Linked DNA regions of Homo sapiens. The protein of the gene in region 1 purifies or fractionates together with the protein of each later gene. This does not show direct contact. Each region holds a gene or a part of one and is shown in the gene's direction. Other genes may lie near its edges. The genes, in order: PLEKHS1 and PBLD.

Region 1 (11,142 bases):
AAATAATGTATGCAAATGCATTTTATAAACTTTAAAGGCTTTAGAAATATTTTTTAAAATGATTTTTTGGCTTTTTGACAAACAGCAGCTCAAAAACAGCTTGCAGTAAACACTGCTTTAAAATATGCCACCCACAGCTAATCTCTCCTGCACATTTCTCCGATTGGATCCTTGAGGGCCATCACTCATTAGGCTAACAGCTGCATAGGGGGCGTGGCCAAGTCCTATAAACATGGACAGAGGGAAAGGTGATGGGTTGAAAACCGCTTGTCCCCAGCTCTTCAGGCAGTGAAATCCTTGAAACTGGAAAGAACCTCATGGATTTGATAAGAAATCTCAGGGATAATTTTTTAAATATTATCCATGCATTTTGGGGAGTGGGCAAGGTTTTGAAGAGGTTACGTTCTCTTTCTCACACAGAATTGCTCTTCCAGGAAACAACAGCCTTCGGCCTCAATAGCTTGGCATCTTTCCCAGGCATTATAGCTCATTGCACAGAGCTGAGTGTGCCCGCTACAGCAGGCGAGGGCTAAGGGCACCGGTTCTTCAACATATGCCTTCAGATGCCCGAGAAAAGTTGTAATTTGTTCAAATGATCACTACTGTGATTATACAGGATACCTCAAGGGAGAAAATCTTTCCCTAGGGGCAGGGTAGGTATGATTCCAGGGTCCAGGAAAGCCATCCCACTGGTCTTCAAAGAGCTTCCAAATGCTCTGACAAACCACCAAAAGCATATCTTAGAACTTGTCTTAATCTTAGGATTTTCATCTCTGAACACATATATATATATATTTGTATTATATATTTTTTTTATTTGAGATGGAGTCTTGCTCTATCACGCAGGCTGGAGTGCAGTAATGTGATCTCGGCTCACTACCTCTGCCTTCTGGGTTCATGTGATTCTTCTGCCTCAGCCTCCCAAGTAGCTGGGATTACAGGTGCCCGCCACCACGCTCGGCCAATTTTTGTACTTTTAGTAGAGATGGGGTTTTGCCATGTTGGCCAGGCTGGTCTGGAATTCCTGACCTCAAACAATCCGCCCACCTCAACCTCCCAAAGTACTGGGATTACAGGCATGAGCCACTGCACCCAGCCTGAATATATGTATTTTTTCATCTCTGTATATGCATATACACACACGTAATTAAAGAATTGCTGTAAGTCATCTACATGTTAGGAAGGAAGAATGAGTTTATGTTGAAGAAAGGGAGAGGTCAGGAGGGTCAAGGGCCTCTGCTTCCTCCCCCATCTTACTTGGGGCTGCTTGGGCACCTCCCTTTTCAGGGCCTTCTATTTTGAGAGTCTTACTAACTTAAGGTAAAAGTTAGTCATACCAAATTTGTGGTTTCAAAGACCTCACTTGCCCTGCAGCCCTTCCCCTGAGGGAGTCCCTTCTCTCCATCCTATGATGGTCATAGGATCGCCAGCAGCTGGCCAGGAAAGGATGCTGCCTCTCAGATTCAGTTTCTCCAGGTTATCCTCAGGAGTCTTGCTCTGTCGCCCAGGCTGGAGTGCAGTGGAGTGATCTCGGCTCACTGCAACCTCCGCCTCCCGGGTTCAAGCGACTCTCCTACCTCAGCCTCCTGAGGGATTACAGGCGAGCACTAGGATTACAGGTGCCCACCACCACACCCGGCTAATTTTTGTATTTTTAGTAGAGATGGGGTTTCACCATGTTGGTCAGGCTGGTCTCGAACTCCTGACCTCATGATCTACCCGCCTCAGCCTCCCAAAGTGCTGGGATTACAGGCATGAGCCACCGTGCCTGGCGGTCCTTGTTCTTAAGTTTCCCCTGGAGAAAGCAAGCCCCTGGGCATGGAGAAAGGCTTATCTTGGGCTTCCTCTCAGCCAGTGATGCTTTCTCGGCTACGTTGGCTCCATGGCATCCTGCCCTTTGCCCTGTTCTTATCTCTCCTTTGTGTTGCCATCCGCCAGCTCTCTTATCAAAGCAGTAAGAACAGAGAAAATCCCAGGAAGACAAGCTCCTTCAGTCTTCTCAACAACACCTCCGCAGAACCACCCACTGTGTGAGGACAAGCTGCTTAGATGTGTCCCCGTTACTGCAGCTACCGTCAGCCTCAGGAACAGGGAGGGAAATACTAAAGAAAGGATGGGAATGGGAGACTCACAACCCATCTCAGCAACATTCGTGAGCACAATCCTGATACTCACTGACCAGCGGTGGCTGGTCAATGAAACACACGTAGTGTTGTTTGGGGACTAACACTAACCCTTCCTTTTGACAGGGGAGGACACACAGCCATCATGGAACCCAAACCTCAGAAGAGTCCAGGTACCCGAGGGGTATAATCGCAGAAGCAGAAATCTTTTTATTGAAAATGCCCCACGGTTTCCTTCAAGCTAACCAGGATACAGAACTTGGTGGTTTTTGTGTATGTTGTTTTGTTTTGTTTTGTTTGAGACAGTCTTGCTCTGTTGCGTAGGCTGGAGTACAGTGGCACGATCTAAGCTCACTGCAACCTGCCAGCTCAAGTGATCCTCTAACCTCAGCCTCCCGAGGAGCTGGCACTACAGGCATATGCCACCATGCCTGCCTAATTTTCGTATTTTTAGTAGAGACGGGGTTTCTCCATGTTGGTCAGGCTGGTCTCAAACTCCCGGCCTAGGTGATTCCCCACCTCTCAGCCTCCCAAAGTGCTGAGATTACAGGCATAAGCCACCATGTACAGCCCCAGAACCCAGGTGGGGATAATGGGTGGCATTCTGTGACAATGATTCTTGGTTTGGAGAATGTAGCAGGAACTGTTGGATTCAATTAATTATTGTGTAAGAGTTTACCTGTCTAGAAGTTTAGCATTTTCTGATTTTCATGAGCCAAATTTTCCATTCATTGCCCAAAGATGATGTTAATAGCAAACTATGGGCCAGCAAAGACTGGAGAACATTTTCTTAATTTTACGTGAAACTCACACTTAGAGAAGTGCCTGCATTGTCACCAGGGCTTATTATGAGGGTAGCTCAATGTATGGTATCAAGTATCCTTGCTCTTATTCATACACTTCTTTGTAGATGAGTGGATAGAAAAGCTAAGTTTAGGATGAAGTCACTTAGAAGTTAAATTATCCAATTCAACTCAAAAATGTTTACAAAGCACCTATTACTAGTGAGTCTTTGTGCTTTATGTTGCAGGGGATATACAGATTAATAAATAAGAGTCATTGCCCTCAAAGAGTTTTAAAATGTTGTTGGTGGGAGGCTGAGGCAGGTGGATCACTTGAGATCAGGAGTTTGAGGCCAGCTTGGCCAACATGGTGAAACCTCGTCTCTATTAAAAATACAAAAATTTGCTGGGCGTGGTGCGCCTGTAATCCCAGCTAATCAAGAGGCTGAGGCAGGAGAACCGCTTGAACCTGGGAGGCAGAGGTTGCAGAGAGCCAAGATCGCACCACTGCACTCCAGACTGGGTAACAGAGCGAGACTCTGTCTCAAAAAAATAAAATAAATTCTTGTCAAGAACTTAAACACATGCAAGTCACTGTGCTGGGAAATTAAGATTAGGCTGTGATGGAAATCATGAAATAAGTACAAATGCTATGGAGTCTGAAGAAGAAAAAGCATGTAAGTAGTAATGAGAATCCAGAGAGGTTTTACAGGAAAGGCATTTGAGCTAGACCCTATAGGAGGAGTAGGGATTTTAAAGAAATCAGAAAAAAGAGCACATTCCAGCAGAAGGAATGGCATGACCAAAGCAATGAAATGGTATAGAAGCAGAATGTGTCAAAGCAGAATATACTTATAAGGTAGGAGAAGGGAAAATAGAGGATGAGGCTGCAGAAAGGTGTTGCCAAATTGTGCCAGACCTTGACCGCGTATGACAAGTAACTGTTGAAGCATTTTGAGCATGGAAGTGGCATGGTCAGATCCACATTTTAGATTGGTCTTTTTTTTTTTTTTTTTTTTTGAGACGGAGTCTCACTCTGTCGCTCAGGCTGGAGTGCAGTGGTGCGATCTCAACTCACTGCAACCTCTGCCTCCCGGGTTCAAGCAATTATCTGCCTCAGCCTCCCGAGTAGCTAGGAGGCGCCTGCCACCATGCCTGGCTCATTTTTTTGTGTGTTTTTAGTAGATACAGGGTTTCACCATCGTGGCCAGGCTGGTCTTGAACGCCTGACCTCGTGATCCACCCGCCTTGGCCTCCCAAAGTGCTGGGATTACAGGCATGAGCACCGCACTGTTGGCTGATTGGCCATATTTTTAATAGCTTTATTGTAGTTTATTGTAATTGGCATACAATAAGCTATTATATATCTAAAGTGTACAATTTGATAGAAGTTTTGATATGAAACATATACAAGCACACCTCAGAGATATTTCAAGTTTGTTTCCATGCCAATACAACCAAGCAAATATCACAATAAAGCTAGTCACATGAATTTATTGGATTCCATAAAAGCTATGCGTACACTATACTGTAGTCGAGTGTGTAATAGCATTATGTCTAAGTAAATAATTTGCATACCTTAATTAAAGATATTTTATTGCTAAGATTTGCTAACAATTATCTGAGCCTTCAGTGAGTCACAATCTTTTTGCTGGCAGAGGGTCTTGCCTCGATGTTGACGGCTGCTGAGTAATCAGGCAGGTTGTTGCTGAAGATGCGCTGGCTGTGGCAATTTCTTAAAATAAGACAACAATGAAGTTGACCACATCGATTGATTGTACTTTCATGAAAAATTTCTCTGTAGCAAGTGGTGCTGTTTGATAACATTTTATCCACAGTGGAACTTCTTTCAAAATTGAAATCAATCCTCTCAAACCCTGACACTGATTTATCAACTAAGTTTATGTAATATTTTAAATCCTTTATTGTGATTTCAAAAATAAACAGCATGTTCACCAGCTGTAGATTCCATCTCAAGAAAACACTTTCTTTTCATATCCCGTAAGAAGCAGCTCCTCATCTGTTGAAGTTTGATCATGAGATTGCAGCAATTCAGTCACATCTTCAGGGTTCACTTCTAATTCTAGTTCTCTTGTTATTTTCACCACATCTGCAGTGACTTCCTCCACTGAAGGAAGTTTTGAACCCCTCAAAGTCATCGAGGAGTATTGGAATCCACTTCCTCCAGACTCCTGTTGATGTTGATATTTTGACCTCCTTCTAGGAATCATGAATATTTTTATGACATCTAGAATGGTGAATCCTTTCCAGAAGGTTTTCAATTAACTTTGCCCAGATCCATCAGAGGAATCACGATCTACAACAGCTATAGCCTTATGAAATGTATTTCTTAAATAATAAGACTTAAAAGTTGAAATTACTCCTTGATCTAGGGGCTACAGAATAGATGTTGTGTTAGCAGGCATGTAAACAGCATTAGTCTCCTTGTACATCTCCATCAGAGCTCTTGGGTGACCAGGTGTATTGTCAATGATCAGTAATATTTTGAAAGGAATCTTTTTTTTTCTAAGTAGCAGGTCTCTGCAGTGGGCTTCTAGAAATATTCATTAAACCATGTTATAAACAGATATGCTGTCACCCAGGCTTTGTTGTTGCACTGATAGAGCACAAGTAGAGTAGATTTAGTATAATTCTTAAGGGCCTTAGGATTTTCTAGCTTTTAATTGAAAGTGAGAGACATGTAACTCACCTTTCACTTGACACTCGCCTTCACTTAGAGGCCATTGTAAAGTTATTAATTGGCCTAATTTCAATATTGTTGAGTCTCATTGAATAGGGAGGTCCAAGGAGAGGAGAGAGATGGGGGAATAGCCAGTCAGTGGAGCAATCAGAACACACACAACATTTTTGAAGTTCACCATCTTATATGGGCACCATTCATACTGTCCCAAAACAATTACTCAAAGATCACTCATTGCTGGTCACTCTAATAGATATGATGATGATGAAAATGTTTGAGATATTGCAAGAATTGCCAAAATGTGACACAGAGACACTAAGTAAGCATATGCTCTTGAAAAAATGGTCCCAGTAGACTTGCTCAGTGCAGGGTTGCCATAAACCTTCAATTTGTAAATAAAAAAAAAAGCAATATATGCAAAGCACAATAAAGTGAAGTGCAACAAAATGAGGTCTGCCTGTATTTGATATGTGTGACACCTGGGAAATCATCAAGATGGTAAATGTGGCCGGGTGCGGTGGCTCACGCCTGTAATCCTAGCACTTTGGAAGGCTGAGGTGGGCAGATCACTTGAGGTCAGGAGTTCAAGACCAGCCTGGCCAACATGGTGAAGCCCCATCTCTACTAAAAATACAAATATTAGCCAGGTGTGATGGCCGGCACCTGTAATCCCAGCTACTCAGGAGGCTGAGGCAAGAGAATCACCTGAACTGGGAGGCAGAGGTTGCAGTGAGCCAAGATCATACCACTGCACTCCAGCCTGGGTAATAGTAAACACACTCATCACTCTTGATGTTTTCTTGTGCCTGTTTGTAATCCTTTTCTGCACACCCAATCCCAGTCCCCATTGTTCTGTTTTCTCTCACTGTAAGTTTGTTTGTATTTATTAGAGTTTAACATAAATGGAATCATACAGCATACACCCTTTTGTCTGACTTTTTTCACTCAGCATAATTTTTTAAAAATATATCCCTGGTATTGAGTGCACCAATAGTGCAAAAATAGTTCATTTTTTTGATGAGTAGTATTCCATTATATGGATGTACTACAATTTGTTGATTCATTCACCTGTTGAATATCCAGGTTGCTTCCAGTCTTCGCCTATTATAAAGCTAATATGAACATTTGTGCATTAATTTTTGTAAAATCATATATTTCTTTATTTTACCTAGAATCAAAATGGCTGGGTCATATGGTTGGAGTATGCTTACTTTTCATTCAAATTTGTTAGATTTTTTAAAAAGCTTTATTGAGGTATAATTGACATACAGTAGGCTGACATGTTTAAAGTCTACAATTTAATAAGTTTTGGCAAATGTACACAGCCATAAAATTATCACCTAAATCAGGATAATAAGCATATTCATCAACCTCACAAGTTTTCTTGGTCCCCTGCCTCCCACTCTTCCATGCAGTCATACTTCCCCAGACAACCCCTGATCTGCTTTCTATCCCTATATGTTAGTTTGTATAGAACTTTATATAATCATGCAGTATGAACACTTTCTGTCTGACATCTTTTTCACTCAGCATAATTATCTTGAGATTTACCCATGTCGTTGCATCTGTCAATAGTTTGTTTCTTTTTATTCCCATATAGTATTCCATTGTATAGATGTATCACAATGTGTTAATCCTTTCACCTGTTGATGAACATCAGGGTTGCTTCCAGTCTTTGGCTATTACAAATAAAGCTGCTATCAACATTCATGACCAGCTTTTGTATTTGTATATTCCTTTACTTAAGAGTAGAATGGGCCAGGTGTGGTGGCTCACGCCTATAATCCCAGTACTTTGGGAGGCCAAGGCAGTAGTATTGCTTGAGCACATGAGTTCCAGACCAACCTGGGCTACATCTCAAAAAAAAAAGAAAAAAGTTATAGCCATCCTAGTGAGCATGAAGTGGTTTCTTATTTTAATTTTGATCTACATTTCCTTAATGACTAAATGTATTGCACAGCTTTTCTTGTGCTTATTGGCTATTTGCTTATTTTCTTTAGAAGAATGTCTGTTCAAGTTCTTTGTTCACTTTTTAGTTGAGTTGTTTGTCTTTTTGTGTTGCATTGTAAGAGTTCTTTATATATTCTGGATAGTAGGCCCTGGTCAGATATATGATTTTTGAATATTTTATCCCATTCTGTAGGTAGTCTTTTCACTTTCTTAATAATATCCTTTGATGCACAAAAGTTTTTAATTTTGATGAAGTCTAGTTTATCTTTTTTGTTTGTTGCTTGTGCTTTTGGTATCATATCTAAGAATACATTGTCAAATCCAAGATTATAAAAATTTACACCTATGTTTTCTACTAAAAGTTTTATGGTTTTAGCTCTCATGTTAAGGTCATTTATTTGAGTTAACTTCATTATTTGGGATGACATAGGGGTCCAAATTCATTCTTTTGCATGTGAATACTCAGTTGGCCCAGCACCATTTATTGAAAAGACTGTTCTCTCCCCATTGAATGGCCGTGACCACTAATGTATGGGTTTGTTTCTGGACTCTGAATTCTATTCCATTGGCCTATGTGTCTTATCTGTCCTTATACCAAAACGACACTCTTGATTATTGTAGCTTTGTAGTAAGTTTTGAAATTGGGAAGTGTGTGTACTCTTTGTTCTTCTTGAAGATTATTTTGGATATTCAGGGCCCCTTGGTATTTTTGATGATTTTGAGGATTAGCTTTTCTAGTTTTACAAGATAAAAAATGCCATTGGGATTTTAATAGAGATTGCATTGAATTTATAGATTGCTTTAGGTAGTATTTATATCTTAACAGTATTAAGTCTTTCAATTCATAAATATGGAATGTTTTCCCATTAATTTATGTCTCTTTATTTCAGCAATTTTTCTAGTTTGCAGTGTACCAGTCTTTTTATCTGCCTAGTTAAATTTAACCCTAGGTACTTTTTTCTTTTGGATGCTATTGTAAATGGAACTGTTTTCATAATTTTATTTTTGGATTATTTATTGCTGGTTTATAGAAATATAGCTAATTTTTGTCTGTTGTTCTTGAATACTGCTGAATTTATTAGCTCTAGTAGTTTTTGGGGATTCTTTGGGATTTTTAACATATGAGATTATGTCACTTGCAAATAGAAATGATTTTATTTCATTCTTTTCCATTTGGATGTTTTATTTATTTTTACTTATTTTGGATGCATTTTTTAATGTTTTAAATAAGTTTGCTAAGAGTTTTCAATCAAGAAGAGTAATGCTAGCCTCATAGAATGAGTTGAGAAATATTCCCTTCTCTTCAATTTTTTTGGGAGGCTTTGTGTAGAATTGATTATTTCTTGCTTACATGTTTGATCAAAGAGAACAGTACAGCCACTTGGGCCTATATGAAGAATTTTTAACTACAACTCCAATTTCTTTAATAACTATAGGAGGCTATTCAGGTTATCTATTTCTTCTTCAGTGACCTTTGTTGGTGTAGTTCAAGGAATTTTTCAGTTTACCTAAGTTGCCAAATTTATTGGAATAAAGTTGTCTATAATATTTCTTTATTATCCTTTTAATATCAGTAGACTCTGTAGATATGTCCCCTCTCTCCTCCTAATATTGGCAAATTGTGTTTTCTCTCCAGTTTTTCTGGTCTATCTGCCTAGGTAGAGGTTTGTTAACTTAATCTTTTTAATGGATTAACTTTGGTTTCATTGGTTGTCTCTGTTGTTTTTCTGTGTTCTCTTTCATTGAATTCCACTTTTATCTTTATTATCTCCCTTCCTCTATTGACTTTAGATTTGTTCCTTTTTTTTTTTTTTTTTTTTTCAGTTTAGTTTCCTGAAACGTTTCAGGTGGAAGCTGAGGTAATTAATTTGAGACTTTTGTTCTTTTCAAACATGGCCATTTCTAACATAGCCATTAAAAAATTTTTCCCTAAGTACTGCTTTAGTGGCATCCACAAATTCTGATACCTTGTGTTTTAATTTTCATCCAGTTCAAAAAACTTTCTAATTTATTTTTGGGATTTTTTAAATTTAGAGATTATTTATTTCAGGATCTTTTAAGAGGTCTGTTATTGATTTATAATTTGATTTCATAGTGCTCTGAAAACATGATTTATATGATTTGAATGCTTTTAAATTTATTGAGACTTGTTTTATGGCCCAGAATACATCTATATTAATAAATGTTGCATGTGCCCTTGAGAAGAATGTATACTCTATTGTCATTGAGTGGAATGTTCTATAAATATCAATCAGTTAAAGTTGGTTGGTAGTGTTGTTCAAGCCTACTGTATTCTTGCTGATTTTCTACAAAATTGAAGAGAAGGGAATATTTCTCTACTCATTCTATGAGGCCAGCATTACTCTTCTTGAATGAAAACTCTTAGCAAACTTATTATTTAAAACATTAAAAATGCATCCAAAATTTAAAAAATCAATTTTAGCACTATTTGTTCTATCAGTTCTTGAGAGAGGGATATTGAAATCTCTATAATTGCGGATGTGTCCATTTATTCATGCAGTTCTATCAGTTTTTGCTTCATGTATTTTGAAGCTATGTTATAAGGGCATATATGTTTAAATTTTTATGTCCTCTTAGGATTAATTCATCCCTTTATTATGAAATGATATTCTTTGTCCTTGGTAATATTATTTGCTTTAAAATCTACATTGATGTTAATATAGGCACTCCAGCTTTCTTTGACTAGCGTTGGCATAGCATATCTTTTTTTCCAGTTATTTCCTTGTAACCCACTTGTATCTTCATCTTTAAAGTGTGTTTCTTACAGGCAGCATAGAGTTGAGTCTTGCTTTTTTATCCAATCTGGTCATCTCTGTTTTTTAATTGAGGTGTTTAGACCATTTACGTTTAACATAATTACTGATATAGTCAGGTTTAAATGTATCATATTGTTATTTATTTTCTGTTTGTCCTATTTGTTGTTTGTTCTCCCTTTCCCCCTTTTCTGCCTTCTTTTGGAATAATCGAATTTTTTATGAATCCATTTTATCTCCTTTGTTGGCTTATTAGTCATTACTTTCTGTTTTGTTATTTTAGTGATTGCTTTAGGGTTTATACACATCACAGTCTAACTTCAAGTGATAGTATACCAATTCACATATAATAAAAGAACTTTACAAAAGCGTATTTCCATTTTTCCCTATTGGCCTTTATGCTACTGTTGGAATGCATTTTACTTGTACATATGTTATAATCTGCACAATACATTGTCTTTATTTTTGTTCAGTTAATGTTTTAATGTTTTCAATAATAAGAAAATAATTTCATACATTTACCCCAGTAGTTACCATTTCAGTGCTTTCAATTTGTTTAAATTCAGATTTTTATGTTATCATTTCCCTTCTTCCTGGACTTCCCTTCACATTTTTTATACTGCAAGCCTCCTAATGATGAATTATTTCAGCCTTTATATATCTAAAAAGTCTTTAAATTGCCTTCATTTTTAAAAGACATTTTTGCTGAATATAGAATTTTGAATGAGAGTATTTTTTCAGTACTTTAAATATAGTTTGCTTGTTTGTTTGTTTGTTTTGAGATGGAGTCTCACTCTATCGCCCAGGCTGGA
Region 2 (7,000 bases), about 45 Mb from region 1:
GGGCAAAACCCCGTCTCTACTAAAAATACAAAAATTAGCTGAGCATGGTGGCGGGCGCCGGTAGTCCCAGCTACTCAGGAGGCTAAGGCAGGAGAATCGCTTGAACCTGGGAGGCCGTGGTTGCAGTGAGCCGAGATTGTGCCATTGCACTCCAGCCTGGGCGACAGAGCGAGACTCCACCTCGAGGAAAAGAAGAAAAAGAAAGTAGGATTGAATAGAGGGAGAAATTGAACTGCAGAGTAGTAGCAACAAGGAAAGGCCTAGGCCAAATCCGTGGGGAGCTCTAAAGCTGGACATTTTTTCAAGTAGTATAGTTCCAAGTAGAGGCAAAGATTCAGGCCTTTTTACCCTCCATGGACCAGTTCCCAAAGCCTGGAAAAGATGTATGACTTTGGGCAAGGTAGCTCTACTCAGCCAAAGGTAACTCCAAGAGAGTGACTCAGTTGAGAGCTGTTGGCCACTAGCACTCTGGGCAAGCAGGGTCAGGGCCAGGTGTAGGCAGAGCCAGCAAGGCCCCAGGTTGCAGCTGAGAGCAGGTGTCTCCTTACATTTTGTACCCTATGGTACTTCCTTGCCTCATGGAGTCCCAGTCCTGAGGCCATGGGTCAGACATAGAATATGGATCAGCACCCACCAGAGAAGGGGAACTTTGGGCGAAAGGATAAGATGAAGCATCTGTGGGATGAGCTAGAGCGAGAGGAGGAGCATCCCAGGCAGAGGCTAACAAGTGCAAAGTCCCTGGGGCCTGTCTATATGATTGGCAGGAGATAAAGTTGAGAAGCCATATAATGTAATTCAATATACATTTTAAAAAGATGATTTTGGTATCTGTGGATAGGGGACATGTGCAAAAGGCAAGCAAACATTCCGAAATGTTTAGGAATTGAGTCTTGAAAAATAGGGTTTACTGAAATTAAATTGAGTGTCTTTTGTTTTTTTGTTTTTGTTTTTTTGAGATGGAGTTTTGCTCTTGTCACCCAGGCTGGAGTGCAATGGCAAGATCTTGGCTCACTGCAACCTCTGCCTCCTGTGTTTAAGTGATTTTCCTGCCTCAGCCTCCCAAGTAGCTGGGATTACAGGTGCCTGCCACCACGCCTGGCTAATTTTTGTATTTTTAGTAGAGATGGGGTTTTACCATGTTGGCCAAGCTGGTCTCAAACTCCTGACTTCGGGTGAACCACCCGCCTCGGCCTCCCAAAGCAAGATTGAGTGTCTTTTGAAAACTGGACTCCACGTGGGTTGGTTTGATGCTGAGGTTTGGAATAATAACATCCTGGAAACCCCCATAGGGCAGTCTTCAGGTTAGATAAGATAAGGTATGAAAAAATGCTTTGTAAATAATGTCTTATGCAAATCGTAATGAGAAAAATTAAGCTTTGTGTTTCTGAATGTCAATTTTATGCTCAATAAAAGTTAACAAGCCAAAGTTCTTCACCTTTGACATGTGGTTTAAGTTTTACAGAAATATTAAGGGAGAGAAAAGAATTGGGTCAGCATTCTTTGTTTTCACTAAAAATGTTATACACACTGATAAGTAGCCCAAGTTGTATCAGTAACATGGGATGCCAACATTTGTGGTGCATTCTTTAAATTACATTGTTATGTAAAAAGTTTGGTTCATTTAGGATAAACCAAATTTATTTCATATAACACTGATATTTACAACTTAAATGTTTTGTTATTCCCTTGGCGTATCTTAGACTAGAAGAGGTTATGACTCTATGGTTGTTGCTGCTGGATATTTTAAAATCTGTATTAGAAACATTACAGGCTGGGTGCAGTGGTTCATGCCTGTAATCCCAACACTTTGGGAGCCAAGGCGGGAGGATTGCTTCAGTCTAGAACTTAGAGACCAGCCTGAGCAACATAGTGAGACCCTGTCTTTACAAAATATTTAAAAATTATCCAGGCATTATGGCTCATGCCTGTAGTCCCAGCTACTGGGGAGGCTGAGGTGGGAGGATTGCTTGAGCTCAGGAGGTCAAGGCTGCAGTGAGCCAGTCCCCAGCCTGGTCAACAGAGTGAGACAGTTCCTCAAAGAAAGAGAAAACATTATAAATGGTAGGTTTAATGTATTAACCTCATTTTATAGATGAGGAAACTGAGATTTAAGGAGGCTGGCCAGGTGTGGTGGCTCACGCCTGTAATCCCAGCATTTTGGGAGGCCGAGGTGGGTGTATCACTTGAGGTCAGGAGTTTGAGACCAGCCTGACCAACATGATAAAACCTCGTCTCTACTAAAAATACAAAAATTAGCTGGATGTGATGGTGCACACCTGTAATTCCAGCTTCTTGGGAGGCTGAGGTGGGAGAATCACTTGAATGTGGGAGGCAGAGGGTACAGTGAGCTGAGATCGTGCCACTGCACTCCAGCCTGGGCAACACAGTGAGACCATGTCTCAAGAAAAAAAAAAAAGGAGGCTAAGTTAGTAAGGGCACAGTAAGCAGTAAAGAGCTGGGATCTGAAGCCTTGAAGTATGACGCCACATCTGATCAGTTATGTTCTTGGTTCTCAAGTTAGAATCTAGTGAGAGTTTTCTCCATTCTAGACCTCAGCAACCCAAACCTCGCTCCATCATAGAAAAGGATGACAGTGCCAGAAAATCTAAGACAATGCAAAGGTGTTTGAAATGGACATGCGCATATATGACAAAGTTTATTTCCTATTTCTTGATTCCTATTTTGGCCAGAAAACATGAATAGCACGCTCACGTTTGTCACTCTGAGTGGAGAACTAAGGGCCAGACGAGCAGAGGATGGCATCGTCCTGGACTTGCCTCTTTATCCAGCCCACCCCCAGGTCAGCTCTTTGTAATTATTGCCCTAAGCCATCTACAACCGACAGCTCTCCTGTTTTATAATAATTTTGTTTTTTTTCCCCCCATCTAGGACTTCCATGAAGTAGAGGACTTGATAAAGGTTGGTAAAAAGAATCAAACCTGAGCCTAGTTATTTGTTATTGTTTGCACACAAAGATTTGGTATCATTTGATCCACAAAGATAGGCATTTTACCAATATAAATGTTACAGTGTTTCAGGTTTGAATTTTAATATTCAGTCTATTTGGTGAGAAGGTTGACCAGTTTTCCTTGGCTCCTGATTGTCACTGCTGGCCCCCATGGTAGGATGGAGGGAAGAGACACTGTTATATGACAGGCTGAAAGGCACAAAAGAACCAATGGAGGTGGTAAAGAAGAGGGAGAATAGGATGTCTTAAGGAAATGTAAGTTTCTGGGAGGAGACCAGCCTTTAGGGAAATTAAGGGATGTTGAATTTCTGTGCTTCTCTAGCTAGAAGGAGAGGAATGGGCCCCGAGCATGGCTGTGCAAGTTCAGGTGTGAAAGTTGGGAATTTCTGGCAGAAAGAGGTCATTCCATAAAATCCATACACACAAGATGGAGGGAAAAAATGGAACCTTCCTGGCAGCTGTCAGTGTCCCCAGTTTCTGTAGTAAAGGATGGGACTGAGGTGGGGGAGGGCTGTGCTTTGATAGAGGAAACCAAGAAAGCATGAGTACCTTGCAGATAAGACAAGATACAGAACATGGGCTCCTCATGGGGTCTGTGTGGGCATGGGGCTTAATAATATTAATGATGATGAAACATTTTGAGAGTCTCTCTGTGTGCAGTGCCACATGCTGAGCATTTCACTTGCATTGTCCATTTAATTCTCAATGTTTCTCAGTAAGGTAGGCACTGCAGTTGTCCCATGAAGGTTCTGCAGGGCCAGAGCAGCCCTGGATGACCAGGGGCTTGGTGTGTAGAGAAGAGAGGGCCCAGGTCAGGACCAGGGCAAGGGCTGTCATGAGAAAAATGATTCTGTAGCTTAGTCTATTGTGAGTACTACTTGGGTATTTCTCAGTGAATTTTTAACTACAGCATTTGTAGTCTCTAGTATTTGGCTTTATCTGTGTTTTCAAAGAATATAAACAAATAAGCATGATGGATTCTGATTTTATACTCAACCCCATCCATGGCTTGGGTTTTGGAGACAAGCCAAATTTAAAAACAAACTGCTTTAAACATACTGGTAAGAAAGTGGAAAAAACTTATAATGGTAGACCTTGTTCATGGTAGAAAGAACTCAACTTAGTCTCAGGGTCAGCATTTATTAAATGGGATAACAAAGGGTTGTAAGTATTGCCATTTTGTGTTCTTCCCTAGAAACTGGCAGTAAGATTCCCAGCCAAGAATTAAACCTTTTTTTTTATTTGAGACGGAGTTTGCTCTTGTTGCCCAGGTTGGAGTGCAATGGTGTGATCTTGGCTCACCACAACCTTCACCTCCTGGGTTCTAGCAATTCTCCTGCCTCAGCCTCGCAAGTAGCTGAGATTACAGGCATGCGCCACCATGCCTGGCTAATTTTGTATTTTTAGTGGAGACGGGGTGTCTCCATGTTGGTCAGGCTGGTCTCGAACTCCTGAGCTCAGGTGATCCGCCTGCCTCGGCCTCCCAAAGAGCTGGGATTACAGGTGTGAGCCACCGCGCCCACCCCTGAACTTTTAAATCAATGTACAAACTCATGCAGATAAGGGCTGGGTTCGAGAGACTAAGGCTCTGGAGAACAGATGGGATCCGGCTGTAGGAGTTCCCATTTCTTGAGGAAGTTACATTGGTCAGCCCATAGTCACAGAGGCAGAAAGCCCAAGTACCACCCAAGGCAGAAGGAATTCTGGATGTGGGAACTGGAGTATCTTGGCCTCTAACAAGGATTAGAGAACCTGAAGCCACCTAGTGACTGCCATACAATTACCATGTAATTACCATCTGCTGGGCCTGGCAGCTGGGGCTGGTGCCAAAGGATGACTTGGTGGTGTGGGAAGGGGTTGTCTCCTCATAATCCCCCTCTGCCCCAAGCCACCCTCAAACAAACATACAAACAAATGATGTTCCTGGATTTCAGCAAGATTATGTGCAGTCAGGTAGAGTGAACCAGGGTATCTTGAGAACATGTTATGTTATTGATCTGTCACATACAATCTGAGTGAAAGTGGTGTGCTTGCCAAGCAGAGCAGCACAGGACGAGCCCTCTAGTCCCTCCTTCCAATCAAGCTGCTAGCCCTGAGTGCTTGCCGTGTGGAACGTTCTAATTGCTGCTGCAGATACTCCACATATACGATTTTATTTAATCCTCACAGCTCTAAGAGGTGGACATGAGGCCCCTCCATCTCTAAAGATGATGGACAGTAGGGATTTAGAGCTTTTTCTCTGACCTTCTCAGACCTGGGTCAAGATATGTGTGTGTGTGTGTGTGTGTGTGTGTGTGATCTTTGGCCTTTCTAAGTCTCTTTCTCCTTCTCTGTGGGGAGAATACCTACTTGAAGGAGTTGTGCATTGAGGCACATAGTAGGCACTTGTGAGAATGCCTATGTTTTTTTTCTTTTTTGAGACAGAGTCTCATTCTGTCTCTCAGGCTGGAGTGCAGTGGTGCGATCTCGGCCAAGTGATTCTTGGCTCACAAGTGATTCTTGGTTCACCAGGTTCAAGTGATTCTCTTGCCTCAGCCTCCCGAGTAGCTGAGATTACAGGAGTGCACCACCATGCCCGACTAATTTTTGTATTTTAGTAGAGATGGGGTTTTGCCATGCTGGCCAGCCTGGTCTCGAGCTCCTGACCTCAGGTGATCCACCTACCTCAGCCTCCCAAAGTGCTGGGATTACAGGTGTGAGCCACTGCACCTGGCCACAATGCCTGTTTTGAGGCTCACAGAGGCCTCTTTGGTAGCCAGGAGACTGACCATCCTTGGGCAACACCTTAAGCTCTGAAACTGCACTAACACTCTTGGGGACTGGAGACGATGGGCATGCTTGGCTCACAGTGGATGCTCAATGAGAGGTCATTTCCCATTTCAGGGGATCAAGGACTTGGCCCAGGGCATGTCCCTGAGGAGTTTTTGGTCTGTCTCCACAGACTGCCATAGGCAACACACTGGTCCAGGACATCTGTTATTCTCCAGATACCCAAAAGCTCCTCGTCCGCCTCAGTGACGTTTACAACAGGTAAGATTTTTGGCTGCATCAGCACTTTGGGGAGGGCTGAGTACCCAGATTTATAGCTCTTCCTTAGTCTGGCTGTGCTGTGTCCAGTCAAACCATGATTTACGCAGCCAGAGTGTTTCTTTCCCTGATAGGAAGACATTCCCACTTGTTCTTCCTTCCCCTCCTGTTAAGCTCTTTGAGCAAGCTGCACCCTGGCCTGCTTCACAGAGTCTGTGTGGTGAGTGGGCTGTGAAATGGGTTTGTCCTAATCCATCTTGTTTATGAACAAGGTCGTTTCTGGAGAACCTGAAAGTGAACACGGAGAATCTGCTGCAAGTTGAAAACACAGGGAAGGTGAAAGGGCTTATTCTTACCCTTAAAGGAGAGCCTGGTGGGCAGACCCAAGCATTTGACTTTTACTCAAGATATTTTGCACCGTGGGTTGGTGTGGCTGAAGACCCAGTGACAGGTACTTTTTACTTGAGCCCAGGGGAGGGTTAAACAATGGAAGAGGAGGATCACAAATAGTTATTTAAGTGCACTTCCTGTGACCTTTCAGGTGGCTTGAGTTTTGAGCTGCCTTGTTCCTCTATCTTTCCCCATCCCTGCCATCCCTTCACTGAAGTCTTCCATGAAAAACATAAAATAGAGCAGGTGGATAACAGGGTTAAACCTGAGTGTCAGACAGCCTGGGTTTACATTCCTAGCTTCCTAGCTTTTGACCTTGGGCAAGTGACTTGACTTTTAAAAGTCTCAGTTCCCTCCTCTATAAATTGTATATAATACCTCATAGGGCTATAAAAGCACAATGCATGTTAAGGGCTTAATACAGTGCCTGGCACCTAGTAAGTGCCCAATAACTACTAGCTATTATATTGTATTATTATATCTTTTTGAGACATAGTCTCACTTCATCACCCAGGCTAGAACGGAGTGGCATGATCCCGGCTCACTGCAACCTCAGCCTCCCAGGTTCAAGTGATTCTCCTGCCTTGGCCTCCCCAGTAGCTGGAACTACAGGCG

The links.
Region 2: the proteins of PLEKHS1 (region 1) and PBLD purify together in Homo sapiens (affinity purification with mass spectrometry; 2 studies listed by BioGRID and IntAct, with this or other methods). This does not show direct contact.

The regions. Positions count from the first base shown.
Region 1 is NC_000010.11:113,753,010-113,764,151, forward strand, and holds part of PLEKHS1 (pleckstrin homology domain-containing family S member 1), read left to right. Parts: intron 1-2,249; 5' UTR 2,250-2,268; coding exon 2,269-2,296; exon of another isoform or gene 2,297-2,396; intron 2,397-11,142.
Region 2 is NC_000010.11:68,287,929-68,294,928, reverse strand, and holds part of PBLD (phenazine biosynthesis-like domain-containing protein), read left to right. Parts: intron 1-2,690; coding exon 2,691-2,800; intron 2,801-2,889; coding exon 2,890-2,919; intron 2,920-5,851; coding exon of another isoform or gene 5,852-5,909; coding exon 5,910-5,998; intron 5,999-6,267; coding exon 6,268-6,446; intron 6,447-7,000.